Linked DNA regions of Homo sapiens: region 2 is linked to region 1. A link means that fine-mapping ties the variant in region 1 to the expression of a gene that starts in the linked region. Tissue or cell type: whole blood. Region 1 holds a variant in brackets; the other region holds the start of a gene. All regions are shown on one strand. Distances are from middle to middle.

Region 1 (8,104 bases):
TTTCTGGATGTGGCGAGGTGGCCACCATCGTGAGTGCGCAGCAGAGCTGGGGCCTTGGGGCCGGGGAGCCTCCCTAGCTCCTCTACTGACCGTCCCGACGGCAGGTTCCTGTGGCTCTAGCCTCACCCCCCTACAGACCCCAGGAACCAGGAGCGCCTCCAAGGGCCTGAACAAGGCATTTTTGTGCTAAAAACCTTCACCCTCTCCTTCCAGGCAGCGCCCGGTTACCACATGGCCAAGCTGATCATCAAGTTGGTCACCTCCATCGGCGACGTCGTCAATCATGACCCAGTTGTGGGTGACAGGTTGAAAGTGATCTTCCTGGAGAACTACCGTGTGTCCTTGGCTGAGAAAGGTAACCCTGGAAGCCTGTGTTGGACAGAAAACTCACTCCTGCCGGGGAACGGGCGTTGTACTGGCCCCGGGCCTTTCATCCTCAGCCAGTTCAGCTCTGCCTGGACACCCAGACCTAGCCAGCCGGGCTGCAGGCGAGCAGGGAACGGCTTTAGGGAGTGCTCCCCGTGCAGTGCGGAGGACTCACAGTGCGTCCCGGGGCGCCTTGCATGTCACAGGCAGTGTCATCCCCCAACAGGGCACCCTTACTGCCGCGCCTGCCTGGCCTGCCCTCTGTATCCTCCCTCCCCTGCCCTCTCCTCCTGCCCCTCAGCCGTGCCTTCTGCCCTGGGCCCCTCTGCTGGCAGGACCTGCCTGGCCTGCCCTCTGTACCCTCCCTCCCCTGCCCTCTCCTCCTGCCCCTCAGCCGTGTCTTCTGCCCTGGGCCCCTCTGCTGGCAGGACATGCACCAGGCCAGTGGGGTTGTGGGCCCCCAGCTTCCCCCAACTCCACTGCCCCTCCTCCGCCCACATCCTTGCTCCTCACTGCCTGCCTGCTCTTGGGCCCACCAGTGATCTCAGGTGGCAGCACCTGCCTCATCTGTGCTTCCTGAGGGCAGCCTGGGCCAGTCCTGGGGAGACCCTGGGATGTGCTGCCATGTGCCCTGGAGCCCATCAGTTCCCACCCCTGTGGGCTCTACTGGGCAGGAAAGTGATTTGCCCACCAGATGGTGGGAGATCTGAGCCTGGCCTTCTCGTGCTCCCCTCCTGCCGCCGAGGGCCAAGGGCCCCCCCTAGTTCAGGCCGCCTGGGCTTCCCAGGCTGCCGCAGGTGAGAGGGCTGATCTGCTGTTGTTCTGCAAGCTCCGTGGTGCAGGGGGGGATCCCTGGGCACCGTCCCTGTGGCCTGGCTGCTGCCTTGGTGTCCATGTCGCTCCCCCTCTTTAGTGGTGCCTGGCAGGCGAGGTCCCTTGAGGCACTCACGGGCCGGCTTGCCTCCGGCTTGGCCAGGAACTGTGGCTCGTCCTTCCCTGCTCCTCTGACCGAAGCATCTCCTCTCCCCCGTGCTGCCTGAGGCTCCCCTCCTCCTATGTGTTTTGGGGCCAGCTGACTCCTGCTCATCTTTAGAGCAGGCCTTCAGGCACCTGGTCTGGAGTCTCGGTGCTGGCGTCAGGGCCCCGTTCTCCCCGGCAGTGTTGCTGTGGCTGACTGGGCTGCAGCCTGAGGTGAGGGTGGAGAGCAGGTTGTATAGTCAGTGTGTGCACTCACAGCGTGTCTGGGAGCGGTGACCAGTCCTGAGGGACAGGCACAGAGAAAGCGCAGGGCCGTGGCATCTGGCAGCTGCTGGCGCCCAGGAGGTCGCCACCCCTCAGCCGCTCCAGCCTTCTGGCTCTATTCTGGTCTACATTCCTCCTGAAAGGATCCAGGGAGCCGCTGGGGCTGATCAAGGTCGCGGTGATCCAGGGAACGACATTGTCAGCGAGCCAGGACTGGCTCCTTGGCTAGGCCTGGTTTTGGGGAAGGTTTTGGTGCACAGATCCTATGCCACCTGGCTCCTGAGGAGCCCCCATCTTGGACCTTCTGCCTCAAGGATGCCCCAGTCACGAAGGGGAGCCCTGCAGAGGCGGGTGGCCGTGTCCAGCCTGGGCCCCTGTGGGAGCGGGAGTGGGGGCTGGAGCGGGGCCACAGCATTGGTCCCTCCACGACCCAGCCCCGGGTGGATGGGCCGGCTTGTCCTGCAGTGAGCCTTGCGGCTGAGGACATTGGGGTCCTCACAGTGATCCCCTCCACGGGCTCCCCTCCACAGTGATCCCGGCCGCTGATCTGTCGCAGCAGATCTCCACTGCAGGCACCGAGGCCTCAGGCACAGGCAACATGAAGTTCATGCTCAACGGGGCCCTCACCATCGGCACCATGGACGGCGCCAACGTGGAGATGGCCGAGGAGGCCGGGGCCGAGAACCTCTTCATCTTCGGCCTGCGGGTGGAGGATGTCGAGGCCTTGGACCGGAAAGGGTGCGAGCCTGTGCCCCTGGGCACCTGGCACCGTGAGGATGGAGAATGAAGGGTGTTGGGCTGGGGGCATTGGCTGGACTGGGCTCTTGGGGCCAGGCCACTGTGTGCTAGGGTCAGTGCCCACCCAGGGCTGTGTGCCTGCCTGCAGGGGTGACCATTTCCAGGTGCATGGAATGGACGGGGTCCGGGCTGCGGGCGAGGCCCACGTGGGGGTGCTGGGCTGCTCCTGTCTCGGCTCTGAGGCTGAATCTGCGGAGTCCAGACCAGGGGCTCCTCCTCCAGGAAAGGCCTTTTCCCCTGGGGAGGGTCTCCTAGAGGGACACCCCCTGGGCACAGGCAGCCCCACAGAAATGGGCTGGGGCTGGGCAGGACCCCACTGCCAGGGGCGCTCTGCCGGGAGCACTCTGCTGATTTGGGGCTTGCCTGCTGTTGAGGTTCCCTGGTCTAAGTTGTAACTGTTAAAATTGTTTAAAAATAGTATTTTGGAAACATTTTAAATGTGTAGGCCAGGGTCGGGGGGGGTGGGGGAGTGGGGGGGATGGGGGGGTTGGGGGGTGGCAGAGGGGAGGAGGGAATCCTGAAGACAGCACCCAGAGCTTCATCCACCTTATCCCCGCGCCCCTCCGTTGGCTGCACTGAGCTCAGAGCACTGGCCCTCCTGCAGCCCACACTCCATTCCAACTCCACCGGGGTTCTGTTACTGTCTTTCCCATCCCAGGATCCCATCAGGGCACTCCACTGTGTGTGGCCGTCAGGTCTCCCCAGTGTCATTTGGTCTGTGACAGCTTCTCAGTTTTTCCTTGTTCTTCATGATCTGGACGTCATGAGGAATCCAGCACGGGCCTGATTCCAAGCGATAATTACAAAGAAAAGGCAGTGTTGCCTGATTGCCTTGAAGCACTGGGGAGCCTGTGAGGCCTTAAGTAGGGTCAGGTGAAACCACACATGCCATCTGAAGTCAGAGCTGTGCCTTGCTGGCCCGAGCACAGAGGCCTGTGCTCCCTTTCTGCGCCCTCACACAGCTTCTTCTGCCCGGGCCCCGTCCTGGGATGCCCATGTCTGCCCGTCCGTCCCTCTCCCACTTAGCTCTGCCTTGTCCTGTCTGGTCTTGCTTGCGTTTTTCCTTTTCCATCTTCGAGGTCCCAGCCAAGGTGCTCCATTTCACTTCCTGCCCCTCCGGCCGTCTGTTTTTCAAAAGCTCTGCCCAGGATTTCACAGTGAGCCAAGTTCTGAGTGGCCCTCTCCACTAGGAATGTGGCATCAGCCACTATGTCCTAGCAGATCTGCTAGTGATGACATTTCTTTAACAGTCAAAGGAGCAGGTGGGATTGGCTTTAGACTGACTTCACATCTCTGCTCGAGCAGGTCCCTGCTCAAGGGCCTCGTAACCACCCATGGCCACTGGCTGCTGCCCTGGACCGTGCAGGCCTTGAGCTCCCAGGGCCATCCTGGGGCAGGGGCTGTGCCAGGCACCAACATGGCTTGTTCTCCAAGGTGGCCCACCTGGGGCGCTGGCTGCTGACTCCTGGCCCATCGCCTCACAGGTACAATGCCAGGGAGTACTACGACCACCTGCCCGAGCTGAAGCAGGCCGTGGACCAGATCAGCAGTGGCTTTTTTTCTCCCAAGGAGCCAGACTGCTTCAAGGACATCGTGAACATGCTGATGCACCATGACAGGTGGGACCGACTTCCCTGGTTGGGTGGCTGGGAGGGAGGGAGGGAGGGAGGGGTCCTCTTCGTGGGTTGGATATTCCACCTTGTTTGGAGAGCAAAACCCGTGCTTTCAGGACGTCTTCTCCACTGT[G/C]CCCATGAGACCTTACTGGGCAGAGCCTTAGACCCCAGCTGGGAGTTTGCGATGGCCTCTGGCAATGCCAGGGGGCCCTGGGCAGCGAGACACAGCAGCACAGTCCAGCCCCCAGGCCTTGTGGACCAATGTGCTGAGCAGGAGGGGGTGTCCTCTGCTGGTTGGAGGTCCCAGGGGCAGCCGTGTCCCAGCAGGCCAGTAGAGGGAGCATGGGCCCAAAACTCCCTGGGGTGGGGTAGGGGGCGCACAAGGGCTGCGGAACCGCGGCAGGCGTCAGTGCCAGTGACAGGCAGTGGTGAAAATGGATTTCACTTGCAACGATGTGACATTATAATGTAGTTAGTGTTTTATTTCAGTGCAGTTAGCACATGGTATGGTTTATCTAGAGTTACAGACTTTGTAAGGTTTGCAGCTCAGGGCAGTTCTTCACCGTTGGCAAAAGTTGAATCCGGCGAGGGCTGGGAATTCACCTGCCCTCCACTTTCAGCTGCCTTTGGGTTAGTTTTAGTTTTGTCTGCTGCTCTTCGATGACCGTGTCACCTGTTGGCTTCAGTCACACCAGCTCTGACCACATGCTGGGATCTGGGCTGGAACCTGGGCCCTGCTGAGGTCTGTGATAAAGGAAGTGCTTTTAAAATTGTGAACTCTGCATTTCGTGAAGTGTGCTTCTGACTCGATAGTGAACAGAAATGCATTTGTAGATTCATAAATCTGGCATTTTTGTTCAGCACATCAGGAACTGCAAGTCAGTATTTCCTGTGTAGGCAAATCCCAGTTAGACTTAAGACGGCAAATGGAGATGCCGTTCCCCAGCAAGTGCCCCCTGCCCTGAGGCGGCGCCATGGGCTCTCCACTGTCTGCCCAGGAGGCCTCTCCCATGTGCAGCTCTAACTGCCCTGCGTGTGGAAGACACGTTTTAAATGCCAGTTTATTTAAAGGAGTGTTGGGTTGAAATAAGGTTTTTCTAAAATATTGTCCCAGGACATAAGTGTTGCTCACAGAGAAGCCCTGTGGCCAAATGGGCCTGGTGCAGCCTGGCTCTGACCAGCTGCGTGGGTGGGCCCCTTCGCTCCAGACAGGACCAGGTGGATGGTGCCTGGCCTCCTGCCCTGGGACTCTCCCCTCGGGACAGTGTGGGCAGGGCTCCCTGCTGCCCTGGCCCAGCCTCCTTTCTCCCATTCCAGGTTCAAGGTGTTTGCAGACTATGAAGCCTACATGCAGTGCCAGGCACAGGTGGACCAGCTGTACCGGGTGAGGCTCCTGGGTCCAGAGGCTAGGGGAGCAGCTGGGTGGGTCCATGTAGACGTGTTGGGTCAGATTGTTTATTTCCCAAGCTGAGTAGATTCTTGGCCTGGGCCAGAGGGGTTTGTGATTCTGATCTGTCATCAGTCGGCTGTGCCTGCCTTTAGGGAAGCTGTCACTGTCAATGTCACTCCCTCCGTTGAAAAAAACAGCTCCTAATGGCCAAGAAAGGAATGTGCGGCCTGGAAACTGAGTGACGGGCAGGGCCCTGGGAGGGACCTTCTCTTCCCTCAGTCAGGGCTGGCCTCGAGGAAAGGCTGGCCTGGTGTGACCTGCAGCTTGTGGCAGCTGTGAGGCTCCCTGGTGGAAGGAGACTGCCTGGGCATGTCCCCTGGCACTGGATCTGCCTGGGCAGTTCTTACCTGGTGCTATCCCTATCGTCGTCCTGGGGGCCATGCCCTAGCAGGAATTTTCGAGGCTGGGACCTTCTCTCCAGCTCCTTGCTCCCTAGATCTAGAATGCGGTAGCTTTCCTGGTCCGTGGGGTCCCCTTTTCAACGAACAAGTGATTGTAATGTCCTCCTCTTCCAGCGGATGGCCCCAAGGCTCGGAGCTCATTTGGAAACAGTCCTAAAGTTCTGGAATCCCATGTTTTTAGCAGCCCCAAGCCCTGTGACGCCAGAGACTAATTTCATCTCCTTCCCTGCAGAACCCCAAGGAGTGGACCAAGAAGGTCATCAGGAACATCGCCTGCTCGGGCAAGTTCTCCAGTGACCGGACCATCACGGAGTATGCACGGGAGATCTGGGGTGTGGAGCCCTCCGACCTGCAGATCCCGCCCCCCAACATCCCCCGGGACTAGGCACACCCTGCCTTGGCGGGACCAGCGGGCATTTGTTTTCTTGCTGACTTTGCACCTCCTTTTTTCCCCAAACACTTTGCCAGCCACTGGTGGTCCCTGCTTTTCTGAGTACCATGTTTCCAGGAGGGGCCATGGGGGTCAGGGTGGTTTTGAGAGAGCAGGGTAAGGAAGGAATGTGCTAGAAGTGCTCCTAGTTTCTTGTAAAGGAAGCCAGAGTTGACAGTACAAAGGGTCGTGGCCAGCCCTGCAGCTTCAGCACCTGCCCCACCCAGAGTGGGAGTCAGGTGGAGCCACCTGCTGGGCTCCCCCAGAACTTTGCACACATCTTGCTATGTATTAGCCGATGTCTTTAGTGTTGAGCCTCTGGATTCTGGGGTCTGGGCCAGTGGCCATAGTGAAGCCTGGGAATGAGTGTTACTGCAGCATCTGGGCTGCCAGCCACAGGGAAGGGCCAAGCCCCATGTAGCCCCAGTCATCCTGCCCAGCCCTGCCTCCTGGCCATGCCGGGAGGGGTCGGATCCTCTAGGCATCGCCTTCACAGCCCCCTGCCCCCTGCCCTCTGTCCTGGCTCTGCACCTGGTATATGGGTCATGGACCCAGATGGGGCTTTCCCTTTGTAGCCATCCAATGGGCATTGTGTGGGTGCTTGGAACCCGGGATGACTGAGGGGGACACTGGAGTGGGTGCTTGTGTCTGCTGTCTCAGAGGCCTTGGTCAGGATGAAGTTGGCTGACACAGCTTAGCTTGGTTTTGCTTATTCAAAAGAGAAAATAACTACACATGGAAATGAAACTAGCTGAAGCCTTTTCTTGTTTTAGCAACTGAAAATTGTACTTGGTCACTTTTGTGCTTGAGGAGGCCCATTTTCTGCCTGGCAGGGGGCAGGTCTGTGCCCTCCCGCTGACTCCTGCTGTGTCCTGAGGTGCATTTCCTGTTGTACACACAAGGGCCAGGCTCCATTCTCCCTCCCTTTCCACCAGTGCCACAGCCTCGTCTGGAAAAAGGACCAGGGGTCCCGGAGGAACCCATTTGTGCTCTGCTTGGACAGCAGGCCTGGCACTGGGAGGTGGGGGTGAGCCCCTCACAGCCTTGCCCCTCCCCAAGGCTGGCAACCTGCCTCCCATTGCCCAAGAGAGAGGGCAGGGAACAGGCTACTGTCCTTCCCTGTGGAATTGCCGAGAAATCTAGCACCTTGCATGCTGGATCTGGGCTGCGGGGAGGCTCTTTTTCTCCCTGGCCTCCAGTGCCCACCAGGAGGATCTGCGCACGGTGCACAGCCCACCAGAGCACTACAGCCTTTTATTGAGTGGGGCAAGTGCTGGGCTGTGGTCGTGCCCTGACAGCATCTTCCCCAGGCAGCGGCTCTGTGGAGGAGGCCATACTCCCCTAGTTGGCCACTGGGGCCACCACCCTGACCACCACTGTGCCCCTCATTGTTACTGCCTTGTGAGATAAAAACTGATTAAACCTTTGTGGCTGTGGTTGGCTGACATGGGGTCTGTGTTTCACTAACTAACTAACTAACTGCAGGTGGTGGTATGAGACTGTGGGAAGCAGAGAACACAGGCCTGAGGCCCAGGGTGGTGCCAGTGCAGGGATGAGACCTGCAAGTGGGCCACAGGTCCCCCGTCTGAAACTAGAGCCGGGGCTGAATTACACCCCATCATTCTGGGATTGAGGGCAGAAAAGTTTGCATCTCCACTAGGTGTGGAACCCGGGGTCATGTGTGCCTGAACGGCTAGTTTTGTTTTTTTGTTTTTGAGATGGAGTTTTGCTTTTGTTGCCCAGGCTGGAGTGCAGTGGCACGGTCTTGGCTCGCTGCAACCTCCGCCTCCTGGGTTCAAGCAAT
Region 2 (8,104 bases), 400 kb after region 1:
ACAGCTCCTACATTTTTGGGAGATGAAAAATGTTCATATGTTGATTTGATGATCAAGACTTCACTATATACATTTCTCAAAACTCATCAACTAGAACTTAAAATGGGAGATAATTTTATTGTCTCAATTATACCTCAATGAAGCTAATTCTTAACAGAAACCCCCAAAATCCCAGCTTGCTCCACAACCCAGTCCACTTGATCCCAGATATGTTACATAAAGTAAAAATTATTATTTTTTGAGACAGAGTCTCACTGTCCCCCAGGCTGTAGTGCAGTGGCATGTTCTCTGCTCACTGCAACCTCCATCTCCTGGATTCAAGCGATTATCTTGCTTCAGGCTCCAGAGTAGTTGGGATTACAGGCGTGAGCCACCATGCCTGGCTAATTTCTGTATTTTTAGTAGAGATGAGGTTTCACCATGTTGGCCAGGCTGGTCTCGAACTCCTGGCCTCAGGTAATCTGCCCGCCTTGGCCTCCCAAAGTGCTGGGATTACAGGTATGGGCCACCACGCCAAGCCGTAAAAATTATTTCAACTGATTAACACGCCACTTCTTAGTCTGTGAAATGGGGATTCCAATTCCTAACTTCCACATTGGTTGAAGAGATGAATAGGGCAATGACTATAAAGCCCTGTCCCTGGGACAGGACAATGGCTCAGCACATGCTGACTGAATAATTTTTTACAAGACCTGGTCTGCACCACGAATGCAGCAGCCTGAATAAAGCACTGAGAGAAGAAATGTAGGGACAATGATGGAAGTGTCCTGAATGAGGGCATCAGATCTGGGGAACGTTCCCCATGAGAACCGGCTGAGAGGTTCTGAGCCTCAGATGGGACAGTGTAGGGCACAAGATGTCAGACATTAGCAAAGGAAACCCACCATGGTTTAGGGCAGAGAAGGCACTGCAGGAAGGCAATACATAAGAAGTCCCCACCTGGGGTTGGGCTGTCCTCCCTTACCCTGCAGACAGTCCTCTCACGGGTAACGTGGGAGTGGAGGAAGAGGAGCTGGGGACTAAAATGGCTCTAAAATGAGCTCTGCGATCCTCAAAGGTGGCCTTGGAAATTCCCAGTCCCAGGGTAGAGCCTCTTCTTGTTAAAAAAAAAGGACCCAAAGTCTTCCAGAGAAGAAAACTTTACGCAGGTTCCTGGGAACAGATCCTGAGTGTGGGCATCGCAACAGACCCTGTCCTGACATGATGCTAACACTAAACACAGCATATCCTGTCGGTGCTTCCAGAATAAGGAAGTGTTGATATTCATTATAATATTTAACACTTTTTTAGAATTTAATATATGCCAGGGACGGTTCCAGGCGTGGCACAAATTTTTCTGCATTCAATCTTCACAACTGTCCTATGAAGTGACTATTACCCACCAATTTCAGATGAGGAAACAGGCACAAAACATTTAAATGCCTTTCTCAAAGCAACACAGCCAAGAAAGTGATAGAGCTTGGGTTTCAACTCTCACTGTAAAGGACTATGTCTTAACCAGTAGGCATGGCTATGACATTCCTCAATGAATCTGCACAGATTAGGAGGGGATCTGGGTCAAGCTAGATTAGCTTGCAAGGTCATGAGGTATATCTTGACTGATGGGTCTCTCTACTTGGGGGTTCTGCTGACAATTTTTCCATAATGAAATGATTAAAATCAGTTATTTGGATGGTCAGTCCACAGCCCCAGAGACATTTAAAAAAACTGCTGGGCCCAATGGTTGCTGTTACTCCCACTCCAATAACCGAGGAAGCCCTACCAACCTGGTGAGGACTAAATTCACCTTTTTTCCCTTGCCCAAATGCCTATGTATGAGGCTTGGGGAATCCTGCCCGAGAAACCATAAAATCTCATCAGATGAGTTTTATTACTCTTATATAATGAGGCTCACTTTCCAACCTGACTCTGGTACAGCATCACATGACAGCAGATGCTGAAGGAAATTATTTTACCCCAAAATATACTTCTTTGACATGTTTTGAAGTGGCTGCCACAGGGGCAACAGATTGAAATGGATAGCCCCGCAAAGCTATCTTTAGTGGGAAAATTTGCATCTGCAGCGAATCTCCATTAATGTAGCCAGACCTCCTTTGTTCTAAGCCTTTCTTAGGTCTGGAAGAGACAGCCAGCCTGACGCGCGGTGGCTCACGCCTGTAATCCCAGCACTTTGGGAGGTAGAGGTGGGTGGATCACCTGAGGTCAGGAAGTCAAGACCAGCCTCAGCAACATGGTGAAACCCCATCTCTACTAAAAATACAAAAATTAGCCAGGCGTGGTGGCGGGCGCCTGTAGTCCCAGCTACTCAGGAGGCTGAGGCAGGAGAACTGCTCAAACCTGGGAGGTGGAGGTTGCAGTGAGCTGAGATCACGCCACTGCACTCTAGCCTGGGCGACAGAGCAAGACTCTCTCTAAAAACAAAAACAAAAACACAAAAACCCAAAAAACTGAAAACAGACATTTACCATCTATTCTGAGAGTTGCCAACTAAGAGGCTTCATCTACATAATAAGAACTTTGATCTACGCAATCCCCTTAACTCTGGCATGCTTCTGATTCCAGTCTTCAGGCAGTAGCTTAAGTCTCTCAACCAACTGTCCACTAAAGAATCCCTAAGTGCCCCCATGAGGTGTAAACCCTTTGGAGATATACCAGCTTTTTGGGAGGAACCCGTGTATATCTTTCTCTTATTGATTTATGATTTTCTTTTTGGAGGCAGGATCTCGCTGTGTTACCCAGGCTAGCGTGCAGTGCAGCCAACATAGCTGGTTACAGCCTCCACCTCCTGGACTCAACTGACTGGGCCTCCCAAGTAGCTGAGGCCACAGGCATGGGACACCACGCCCCGCTAATTTTTTTATTTTTCTAATTTCATGTAGAGACAGGGTCTTGCTGTGCTGCCCAGGCTGCTCTGGAACTCCTGGCCTCCCAAAGTGCTGGGACTACAGGCATGAGCCACACTGCTCAGCCTGATTTATGACTTTACCTGAAATTCCTGTCTCCCTGAATTGTATAAAATTAACCTGCAAGCCTGACCATCTCGGGCACTTTCACAGGACCTCTTGAGGCTGAATAACCTGGGCCACAGTCACTCATACTGACTAGGAATAAACCTTTTTAAATATATTTTGGCAGAACCCGGATTTTGCCGTCATTAGCAAGGCCCCAGGGAAGAGGCCACCTGGGTCCCCACAGCCACCTCACCTCCCGCGGACGCTGCCCCACGCAGATCCCCCCCCCCCCCCACCAAAACACGTCTAGACGTGCCCGTGCGAGGACATTTGGTCCCGGCCTACACTCCTATCCGCGGAAGATCGTCCCAAGGCGGGGTGCTCCCAACCCAAAGCAGCGGCCCTTCCCCAAAACACGCGGGCGAAGTCCTCCCCTGTCCCGCCTCCCACAATAAAGTCTGGAGCATCAGAGTCGGAGGGAACCCGAGTCGGACCTAGCCCATCCGTCTCATGGCTGTAACCCCCACCCCACCAGTGGACCCTGGCTGTGGCCGAGTCCCCCTCCACCTCCGGCCAAAAGACCCCCGTGGCAGCTCGCTAGGCCGCTGGCCCGTCCCCACCCGAGGAGCGGCGACCCTGGCACAAGAGGACCTGGGTTGCTCGGCGCCCCTGTGAAATCCGGGCTGTTCACCGCCCGAGCCGCCACTACACGCAACCGGGAACGGAGACTGAGTGGCGGCCCAGACCCGGGGCGCTCGGCAAGCCGCAGCCCCACCGCCCACTTCAAGGCGCGGCCTGGGTCTCCGCCCCTCCCCAGAACGCGGAGACGCCGGGCCTGGAGGAGCGCGCGCTACGGCCCCAGCAGCGCCCTCACGTCCCAGGCCTTCCCGGCCCTTCTTCCTGCGCCGGAAGGGCGCGCTGCAGAGAGGGACCCGCAGGAGCGCAGCTCACCGGGGCGGCTGAGGGCGAACCGAGGCGGTGAGGTCACCGATGGTGGACCACGCATCTCACGGCTCGCTGACGCCCAGGGATCTGGAACGCTCTGCGCCGCCCGGGACTACACTACCCAGAATCCTCAGCGCGGCCGGGACTACGCTACCCAGCATCCTCGGCGCGGCCCGGAGGCTATGCGACCCTGCGCGTCGCATCCCCTCGGTGGACTACACTCCCCAGAGTCCTCGGGAGTCGTCCAGGTACACGCCCCAGAATATTGGTCATAGCGGTCCACCCGGGACTGCGCGACCCGGAATCCTTGGAAGGACTTCTCGGAAGGACTCCTCTCTGACAGGTGGGGCGAGCCTATGGTCGTTTGGACGTGGAGGGATCCTTTCAGAACCGGCGATTTCTTTTATTTAGGTAGCCCTATACATACATTAAGCATATTTTCCCATTTCTATGATATAGGTAAATAATTTTCCCACTGTCTTTTGATTATGGGTATGTCTTTTTTTTTTCTTTTGTTTCTTTTTTTTGCTATGTAGTACTTTTGATCTCTGATTTTCCTACGGATTTTGTGGTTTTATCATTCACATTTAGATCTCTCAATGGTTTAATTTTTCTCCAGGTACACACTGTAAATATACAATTATTTTTAAAATTTTCTAATATTTTATTAATTTCCCATTAAATTTATTAAAAATATAGTCTTTTACCAAATAATTTAAGGTTTCAGCTACATAATTCAGTATACTCAATTTACATTTGCATTTCAATTTCTAATTGTTCCCCCATTTATCTAATTATGCATCAATGCCAGAATTCTTTCATTATGTAGGGTGTATAATATGCTGATATCTTTTGTGGCTTGCCAAACCACGTAGACTTTATATTTCAGGCCTTTACTAGGTATACTTGCTGTTTGCTTTTTCTCTTTTGGTTTTTAAATTTTTAATTATTCTGGATAAATATTAGTTGTACATATTTATAGGGTACATGTTATGTTTTGATACAGGCATACAGTGTTTAATGGTCAAATGAGGGTGATTGGGGTATCCATCCCCTCAAGCATTTAGCATTTCTTTGTTTTAGGAAGTTTCCAATTCTCTCTTATTTTTAAATATATAGTAAAATTGTTCTTAACTATAGTCACTGTATAGTGCTACCAACTACTAGATCTTATTCATTCTAACTGTATTTTTGTATCGATTAACAAGTCCCTCTTTATCTCCTCTACCCACCATCCTTCCCAGCCTCTGTTAACTATCTCATTCTACTCTCCATCTCCATGAGTTCACGTTTTTAGCCCCACAAATGAGTGAGCACATGTGATATTTGTCATGCTGTGCCTCATTTCGCTTAACATAATGTCCTCCATTTTCATACATGCTATTGAAAATGACAGAATTTCATTCTTTTAATGACTGGCTAATATCCCATTGTGTTAATGTACCACACTTTCCTTATCCATTCATCTGTTGATAGACACTTTGATTCTATATCTTTACTATTTTGGATAGTGCTGTAGTAAACATGAGAGTGCAGATATATCCTTGAAATACTGATTTCCTTTCTTTTGGATATATACTCAGCAGTGGGATTGCGGGATCATGTATATATTTATTAATTCTTTTGAGGAACCTCCATACTGCTCTCCATAGTGGTTGTACTAATTTACATTCCTAACAACAGTGTATGAGGGTGTATCCACACCCTCACCAGTATTCACTATTGCCTGTCTCTTGAATAAAAGCTATCTTGACTGGGGTGACATTATATCTCATTGCGGTTTTGATTTACATTTCTCTGATGATTAGTGGCATTGAGCATTTTTTTTCATACACTTGTTGGCCGTTCATATATCTTATTTTGAGAGATGCCTATTCAGATCTTTTCTCCATTTAAAATATCAGATTGTCTTTTTCCTATTGAGTTGTTTTAGCTCCTTATATATATTCTGGCAATTACTTTCTTTTCAGATGGATAGTTTGCAAATTTTTTCTCCCATTCTGTGGATTGTCACTTCACTTTGTTGATTGTTTCCTTTGCTTGCAGAAGATTTTTATGTGATGTGGTCTCATTTGTCCACTTTTGCTTTAGGTGCTTGTGCTTTTGCAGTCTTACTCAAGAAATCTTTGTCCACACCAATGTCCTGGAGTGTTTCCCCAATGTTTTTTTCTAGTAGTTTTATAGTTTCAGGTCTTAGATTTACCTTTAATCCATTTTGATTTGATTTTTATATGTGGTGAGGGGATTGCTTTAGATTTCATTCTTCTGCAAATGGATATCCAGTTTTTGCAGTGCCATTTATTGAAATGACTGTCTTTCCCCAATGTAAGTTCTTTGCACCTTTGTGGGATATAAGTTGAACTATAAATGTGTGGATTTATTTCTGGGCTCTCCACTCTGTTCCATTGGTCTGTGTGCCTGTTTTTATGCCAGCATTTTGCTGTGTGGATTACTATAGTTTGCATAATTTGAAGTCAGGTAATGTGATTCCTCCAGCTTTATTACTTTTGTTCAGGATGGCTTTGGCTATTTTGGATCTTTCATGGTCCCATATAAATTTTAGGATTAATTTATCTATTTCTGTGAAGAATGTCATTGATATTTTGATTGGGATTGCATTGAATCTGTAGACAAGGTGGAATGGACATTTTAATAAGATTAATTCTTCTAGTCCAAAAACACGGACTATCTTTCCATTTTTTGTATCCTTTTCAATTTCTCTCATCAATGTTTTATAGTTTTTGTTGTAGAGATCGTTCACATCTTTGGTTGATTTTATTCCTAGCTATTTTATTTTATTTGTAACTTTTATAAACAGGTTACTTTCTTGATTTCTTTTTCAGATTGTTTGTTGTTGGCATATAGAAATGCCACCCATTTTTGTATGTTGATTTTGTATCCTGAAACTTTACTGAATTTCTTAATCAATTCTAATGTTTTTTGGCTGAAGTCTTTAGGTTTAACTAAATATAGGATCATATCATCTGCAAACAAGGATAACTTCACTTCTTCCTTTCTAATTTGAATACCTTTTATTTCTTTGTCTTCAGTAATTGCTCTAGCTAAGATTTCCTAGTACTACGTTGAATAAAAGTGTGGAATGTGGGAATCTTTGTCTTCTTCCAGATCTTACAGGAAAGGCTTTCAATTTTTCAGTATGATACTAGCTGTGGGTTTGTCACATATGGTTTTTATAATATTGAGGTATATTCCTTTTACACCGAGTTTTTTTTTTTTTTGAGTGTTTATTATGAAGGGATGTTGAATTTTACAAATGCTTTTTTGGTATCCATTGAGATGATCATATGGTTTTTGTCTTTTGTTTTTTTGATATGATATATCACATTTATTGAATTACATATATTGAGCCATCCTTGCATTCCTGGGATGAATTCCACTTGGTCATGATGAGTAATCACTTTAATGTGTTGTTGAATTTGGTTTGCAAGCATTTTGTTAAGGATTTTTGTGTCTCTGTTTATTGGAGATATTGCCTTATAGTTTTCTTTTTTTGTACATCTTTGTATGGTTTTGGTGTTAGGATAATACTGACCTTATAGGATGAGTTTGGAAGTGATCCTTCTTTCTTTCTTTTTTTTAAATAGTTTGCATAGATTGATACTAGTTCTTTATAAAATGTTTGGTAGAATTCAGCAATGAAACCGTCAGGTCCTGGGCTTTTCTTTGATGGGATACTTTTTAATACTGCTTCTATCTCATTTGTTATTAGTCTACTCATGTTTTGGATATTTTCATGGTTCAATCTTAGGTTTTATGTATCTAGGAATGTATCAGTTTCTCCTAGATTTTCCAAATTAATAGCATATAGTAGCTCATAATCATTTCTAATGATCCTTTAAATTTCTATGGTATCAATTGTAATGTCTCCTTTTTCATTTCTGATTTTATTTGTTTTGGTCTTCTGTTTTTTCTTAGTCTGGCTAAAGGTTTGTGAATTTTACCTTTTTTAAAATTATACTTTAAGTTCTGGGGTACATGTGCAGAACGTTCAGGTTTGTTACATAAGTATACACATGCCATGCTGGTTTGCTGCAGCCATAAACCCAGCATCTACATTAGGTATTTCTCCTAATGCTATCTCTCCCCCAGACCCCCACGGTCCGACAGGCCCCAGTGTGTGATGTTCCTCTCCCTGTGTCCATGTGTTCTCATTGCTCAACTCCCACTTATGAGTGAGAACATGTGGT

The links. PIP is the estimated chance that this variant, and not a neighbour inherited with it, causes the effect.
Region 2: ZNF337 starts here. The variant in region 1 is fine-mapped to the expression of ZNF337 in whole blood (TOPMed, PIP above 0.99).

Annotation. Positions count from the first base shown.
Region 1 is chr20:25,290,268-25,298,371 of GRCh38, forward strand. PYGB (glycogen phosphorylase B) reads left to right here. Exons shown (of 20, transcript NM_002862.4): 16 at 214-355; 17 at 2,139-2,346; 18 at 3,891-4,025; 19 at 5,337-5,403; 20 at 6,103-7,745. The coding sequence ends at 6,255. It also overlaps a transcript of ABHD12 not described here. Among named protein-coding and RNA genes, the nearest start is that of PYGB, 46 kb to the left of the region's middle. RefSeq lists enhancers at 3,813-4,335, 5,381-5,902. The variant G/C (reference allele first, on the strand shown) is at 4,153.
Region 2 is chr20:25,692,857-25,700,960 of GRCh38, forward strand. ZNF337 (zinc finger protein 337) reads right to left here and starts at 3,997. Exons shown (of 5, transcript NM_015655.4): 1 at 3,903-3,997. LOC107985400 (a long non-coding RNA gene) reads left to right here and starts at 4,185. Exons shown (of 2, transcript XR_007067557.1): 1 at 4,185-4,307. RefSeq lists an enhancer at 3,401-3,510.